Linked DNA regions of Homo sapiens. The gene in region 2 interacts genetically with the main gene of each other region. Each region holds a gene or a part of one and is shown on either strand. Other genes may lie near its edges.

Region 1 (3,500 bases), on a different chromosome or scaffold from region 2:
AAGTGTTGTCTTTTATCTTGTTGAGCATCACTATGTCAGAAAGATGAGTTGGTTATGGTGATTGTCAGGAAGGGTTGGGAGAATAAACAGAAAAAAACCCTTGGAAACTAGAGATATGCTCAATTTTAAAGATAGTGGATATTTTCTTAGAAGGTAGAGAAAAAGGAGAGTGATATAGGAAAGTATCCAGAACTACCTTGCACAATACTTTCTGCATCCTTGTAACTTACCCAGAGTTACTAGTGATGTGTTGAGATCTATGGACTACTAGACTTTCTTTCCTTATTACAAGAATTACATTCTTCATAGGGATAACTTGGAATTCAGAAATTGAACGGTAAGCTAAGCCAGTTTTATGGTTTGTAGCTTAAGGCTGGAGTGATGGTTTTGAACAATTTAACGTAGGTTTTGCTTGTGAAATACATGAGACTCATATTTTGGCAGGAAGTTAATTTTCTCTATACATTTTTGTTTAAAAAAGAAGGCAAAATATTTCACTGTTCATTTTTGTAGAGTAGTAGAAAACAGTATTGACTGAATCCTCAGGTACATTTTGAGTAATGGAATCTCTGAGCTTGATGATTAGAGATGAAATTTAAGAATTTATGGTAAAGCTGAGGCTTTCATCTTTTAGTATAATTTCTTATATTTAATAACTCTACATAATAATGTTTATTTCTACTAAAGGTATTAAAACAAAGGCCAAGGTTTGTAGCCCTGAAGAAGCAGCCATCCTATATTGGAGGACATGAGGGCTTAGAATTAAGAGATTATCAACTGAATGGTTTAAATTGGCTTGCTCATTCTTGGTGCAAGTAAGTATATTTTGAATCATCTATTTAATTTGACAGAGTAAGAATTTACCAATACAGGATTCAGAAAAGATTTCCATTTACATAAAGAATAAGACTCTTTGGCAGTTTATATGCTAGTCTTTGTATTTCCTAGTTTGTATAAACAATACTTACTACATACTAGGAAGAAAATCCAGTGGAGTTGGAGTTTAACTTGATTGTTGCCTTTTTAAAATATGTTTTTATTCAGTTTAAAAATCAAAATGCATATCTGTTCTCATCCCATGCTATTCCTGGAATATTTCTCTTTTTCCTAGTTATTTTAATATCCATTTACTCTTCTACATTTTTTTTCTATCTTCTATGGCCCCCACTCTACTTTTGTGAATCTCGGTTGCAATTTAGCTATAGTTTTTTTTTTTAATCTGTGTTCTTCCTATATACTTTTTACTTATTTAATATATCTGGACTCTACTACTAGTAGATGAATTGCATTATTGGCTTCATAATTGATTAAACATAATACTATTAATCTTTAAGCCTCTTCTGGCCCAAAACGGTCATCTCCTTTTACTTTTCTTACAGCATTAGTGATTAAGTCTTTAGCCAGATACCTTTACATTTATTATTTGTAGTTAATAAAAGTGGTATATTCTATATAATACCTATCAATTTTATTTAACTTCATAAAAACATATACACATGATGTAAAAAGGTTTCTTTGTATATTTGAATATTTCCTTGCATGCTAATTTTTTTTTAACTTTGTAGAGGAAATAGTTGCATACTCGCTGATGAAATGGGCCTTGGAAAAACAATACAGACGATCTCATTTCTGAATTATTTGTTTCATGAACATCAATTATATGGACCTTTTTTATTGGTAGTACCGCTCTCCACTCTTACTTCCTGGCAAAGGGAAATTCAGACTTGGGCTTCTCAAATGAATGCTGTGGTTTATTTAGGTGACATTAACAGCAGAAACATGGTAAGTTGTTTCCCTGTAAATGTAGAAATCAAAATGTACTTGTCTTTGAGATCAAGTGTTTTTGTTGTTTTGAGATGGGGTTTCACTCTGTCTCCCAGGCTGGAGTGCAGTGGTATGATCTTGGCTCACTGCAACTGGGACCACAGGAGCACGCCACCACTCCTGGCTAATTTTTTATATTTTTTAGTGGAGACAGGGTTTTACTGTGTTGCCAGGCTGGTCTTGAACTGAGCTCAAGTGATCTGCCTCCCTTGGCCTCCCAAAGTGCTGAGATTACAGGCATGAACCACCGTTCTTGGCCTAACAAGGATGAGAGGTTTTGTTTTGTTTTGGTCTGTATAACAGTCTTTGTTTCTGGTATAGAACTTGCCACAAATAAGTTCTCAGTACATGTTTAATTGACTGTAACAAAGTCAGTTTTGGTTTAGTGTTACTTAGTATATATATTTGACTGTTTTTTTGGTGGGTTTTTTTTTTTTTGTTTTCACTCTGTCATCCAGACTGGAGTACAGTGGTGTGATCTCGGCTCATTGCAACCTCCACCTCCCAGGTTCAAGTGATTCTTCTGCCTCACCCTTCCAAGTAGCTGGCATTACAAGCGCCTGCCACCAGGCCCGGCTAATTTTCATATTTTTAGTAGAGATGGGGTTTCACTATGTTGCCCAGGCTGGTCTCAAACTCCTGACCTCAAGTGATCCACCTGCCTTGGCCTCCCAAAGTGCTGGGATTTACAGGCGTGAGCCACCATACCAGCCTATTTTACATTTTTAATGGAAAATTTCAAATATGCATGAGAACAGACAGAAGAATGTAATAAACACTCATGTTCTTAAGTTTCACAAATTTACTGCTAGTTTTGTTTTGTCTATACCTCTACACACGACTTTCCTAGTTACTGTGAAGCAAACCCCAGACATCATATTTCATCCATAAACATTACATTATTAAATGAATTAATCACTTATGTTTTCTTAAATAAGACCTTTTCGTTTGTGAAAGATGTGCTTTAAAATTGTGTTTACTTCGTTTTTTAAGAAATGCTGTGGTATTTATGTTTTATTTATAAGATTTACATAGCATTTTGGACTATATAAAGAATAACTCTGGCCGGGCATGCCGGCTCATGCCTGTAATCCCAGCGCTTTGGGAGGCCAAGGTAGGTGGATCATCTGAGGCTGGGAGTTCGAGACCAGTCTGACCAACATGGAGATACCCTGTCTCTACTAAAAATACAAAATTAGCTGGGCGTGGTGGTGCATTCCTGTAATCCTAGCTACTCGGGAGGCTGAGGCAGGAGGATCACTTGAACCCGGGAGGTGGAGGTTGTGGTGAGCCGAGATCACGCCATTGCACTCCACCCTGGACAACAAGAGCAAAACTCTGTCTCAAAAAAAAAAAACCACAAAAACTCTTTTATTACATAAACATATATTAATAGTTACTTACATATTTGAATGGATTTTAATTTTTAGATATGTAAGTAAAAGTATAATTTGCTTGATGTTTGTCTTAAAAATTGTCCTTCAAATTTCTTAATAGATAAGAACTCATGAATGGACGCATCATCAGACCAAACGGTTAAAATTTAATATATTGTTAACAACTTATGAAATTTTATTAAAAGATAAGGTATGTATTTATTTCTCACGTGTTTTGGTCTCTTGTATATCAGTTTTTTCTTTATCATATGCTGTGGACAAGATGAGAGAATAGCCTAA
Region 2 (3,229 bases):
TGATCTCCGGCCTCGAGGTGGCTTCAGGGGGCCCACCTGGTTAAGGGAAATTTGGCAGTGCGAGGGTAGTGCTGGAGAGAGGGGTGGGTACAGGGGGCTAGGGGCACCATGGATGCCCCCTCCTTACTGTCCCCTGGTGTCTTGACCTCAGCTTCTGCCCACAGGCACTTGCTGGATTCTCCAAAAGTATCTGCAGTGGCTGTTCCACCAGGAGGTAATTCCCTTCTGGTCTCTTTCCCCTCCACATCTGCATCCTCTTCAAATCCTGCCATTTCAGACCACATTTGAGAGCTCTAGAGAACAAGACATCTGACACGTGACGTGTCCAGAAGATGAGCCAGATTTCAAAGAACTGAGATCTGCTTTAAAAACGAAGCTCTCCAAAGTTACTGGAGTCTGGGTAATAGTGATCACCAGAGTAATTTGTGTGCAGGACATCAAATCAGGCTGCTCGAAATGCTGCCTAAATTGGCCAGTGGTTTTATTTGCTTTTCTGTCAACCTAATATTCATAGGAAATAGAGTTTCAGAGGAATGATAGGATCCTGGTGGAATAAAAAGGGAAAAGACCATCTTGAGCAGGAGTTTCAGGGTCCTCCGTTTTTCCCAAGTTACTTTCACTCCTGAGATCTTGCATGTTAGAACTACAGCTTAATGTAGTGAAATAGGAAAGTTCTCTGTTAGGAGCTTAGCCTTACCTTGTCATGGACATTAAAGTAATTGTCTCTCTTTGGGCTTCAATTTTCCCATCTCTCATGGGAAGGGCTGAACCAAGCAATCCCCAAAATAGCTTCCAGCCTTAACCTTTTTAGGGGTCTCGTTTAAATAGAAGATAACAGGGAAATGGTCACAGTTTACCCACCATTCCCTCCTCCTTATCACAACTTATACCACCGCTGTACTGCACACCTCCTTTCTCAGCATTGCTGCTGTCCTTAAAATGCCTTTAACTCCACAAGAGAGTGTGTTGTTAATGTTGGCTCAAGGTCCTTCCTGGTGAGTGGCCAACATTGTTTTGCTCCTTGCAGGGGTCCCACCAATCTTGTTTGCTTCTGCAGAGCCTCAGCCTGCCTGGAAGATGCCGAGATCGTGCTGCAGCCGCTCGGGGGCCCTGTTGCTGGCCTTGCTGCTTCAGGCCTCCATGGAAGTGCGTGGCTGGTGCCTGGAGAGCAGCCAGTGTCAGGACCTCACCACGGAAAGCAACCTGCTGGTACGTGGGCCATGACTGCCATCTTGGCTTAGACATTAGATGGGACTGGAGCTGGGAAAGCTCAAAAGAAAAGGGTGTGGGGAAAGGGAAATTCATTCCCAGTGATAGGCGTGATTCAATCCAGGGCAGGAGCAAAACTTTGCAGTGAAGTAAGAAATGGGAGAAGAAATCAGGGAAGGAAGCAGCTTCAGGGAGAGGGGTTGAGTCCACAATTTCTGCTTGGTTATCCTTACTTCTTGCCCCATCTTTTATGGAGACCTTGAACCCTTTAAGCTAGAGATGGTGCTATAAGAGCAATAATGGACCCCTCAATCTATTCTGTACTTTAAATCTTTAGCTTCCCAAACTATTCCTTTTTAAGAAGCTCATATCACTTGCCATTTTCATTCCATATTTCTTACCCTTTTATCTACTACCGGTTGCAAAACCAGCCAGGTAGTTCTTCAAATCATCTCTGGAAGAAGGAAAAACCAGGGGCCCTTTTTTTTTTTTCTTTAATTGGTGCCAAATGTCTCATGTTTATTCTGGAGGACTGGCCTTCTGCTGTGTTCCTCTACAGTCTTTCCAGAGCATGTGAAGGCCCTTTGCATCAGGCAGGAGCTCCCTCCAGGTCACCACAGGGTGTATGTATCTGCCTGTGGGGGGTGTGTGTGTGTGTGTGTTGGGGGGCATAAATGAGTAATGATGCCAAATCCAGAGATTAAAAGGCACACTGAGACCAGGCGAGATGGCTCATGGCTGTAATCCCAGCACTTTTAGATGCTAAGGTGGGAGGATTGCTTGAGCCCAGGGATTCAAGACAAGCCTGGGCAACATAGTGAGACCTCCACTTCTACAAAAAATAAAAAAGTTAGCCAGATGTGGTGGCATGTGCCTGTAGTCCTAGCTACTTGGGAGGTTCACTTGAGGCCAGGAGTCTGACGACACAGTAAGCTATGATCACACCATTGCACTCCAGTCTGGGTAACAGAATGAGACCTTGTCTCAAAACAAAACAAAATGAAACAAACAAACAAACAAACCCCCATACTGTTAGTGTCAGTGACCGGAATTTTAATCTTGTTGCCATCACCTGGCAGGTGCTGAGGGTGGAATGTACATAACTACATTCTGTGTATTTTGTCAATGCAGAAGCTGAGTTAAGGTGAAGATAGAATGAGGTCCTCAAAGACACAGACCAGTTTTCATGTGTAATATAAAATAGAAACAAAGAGCCCAGGGGATTCTGTGAGTTCCAGTTTGGAAAGACCCAAGAGTCTCTTGACTTGAGACACCCACAGCACAGCTCACCAGGGAGGGTGCACTGGACACAGTCAGGACCCATGGGTTCTAGACCCAGTTTTGAGGTGTGGGACCTTGACCAGGTCCTATCACCTCTCTGAGTCTCCTGTTTCACTATCTGTCCACGGGAGGGGAGTGTAAATTAGTTTTTTCCATTGTTAACGTTCCACAGAGTTGTAATTCTGAACACCTGGAGTAGGCAATGTCCAGCTCAACAGAGTGGGTAGGATCCTTTTATTTTCTCCTTTGCTATTCCCAAGAAAGAGAGCAGCCAGTGAGCTTTTCATCTTTTTATCACTGAAAACTCAAGGCTGCAGCCTATGCAGCCATTTTCCTAAGCTAATATGTACCACAATAGAGTCCTCTAGGGACAAGGAGCAGAGACACAGGTTCCACAGACGGTGCAATGGAAATAACGCTAGCTTTCCACCCCTCCCTCCAGTCAGAATGAGATTACAGGGAAATAAGCTTGCCCCAGAGCTCACTGGGGGATCTCTCAGAAATCAGCTCAGAAGTCGTGAAAGAACCAAGGTGCAGTTTTGGAGGCTTAGTGCAGAGATGGAGCTGGGGTAGGGCATAAAGTAGGTTTTTCATCACTGAGGTAAGGTTGAGGCATTATTTTTTATTTTTTGTTTATTTATTTATTTTTTTGAGACGGAGTCTCGCTCTATCACCCAGGCTGGAGTGCAGTGGCGCGATCTCCCCTCACTGCAAGCTCCACCTCCCAGGTTCACACAGG

The links. Genes that interact genetically often act in the same process or in processes that back each other up.
Region 1: changes in POMC (region 2) and CHD1 together harm fitness more than expected from each alone (negative genetic interaction), as found in Homo sapiens cells (one large-scale study listed by BioGRID).

What each region holds. Positions count from the first base shown.
Region 1 is NC_000005.10:98,894,508-98,898,007, reverse strand, and holds part of CHD1 (chromodomain-helicase-DNA-binding protein 1), read left to right. Parts: intron 1-687; coding exon 688-815; intron 816-1,565; coding exon 1,566-1,782; intron 1,783-3,321; coding exon 3,322-3,411; intron 3,412-3,500. UniProt on the Homo sapiens protein: ATP-dependent chromatin-remodeling factor which functions as substrate recognition component of the transcription regulatory histone acetylation (HAT) complex SAGA. Regulates polymerase II transcription.
Region 2 is NC_000002.12:25,162,621-25,165,849, reverse strand, and holds part of POMC (pro-opiomelanocortin preproprotein), read left to right. Parts: intron 1-164; exon of another isoform or gene 165-214; intron 215-1,027; exon of another isoform or gene 1,028-1,057; 5' UTR 1,058-1,077; coding exon 1,078-1,209; intron 1,210-3,229.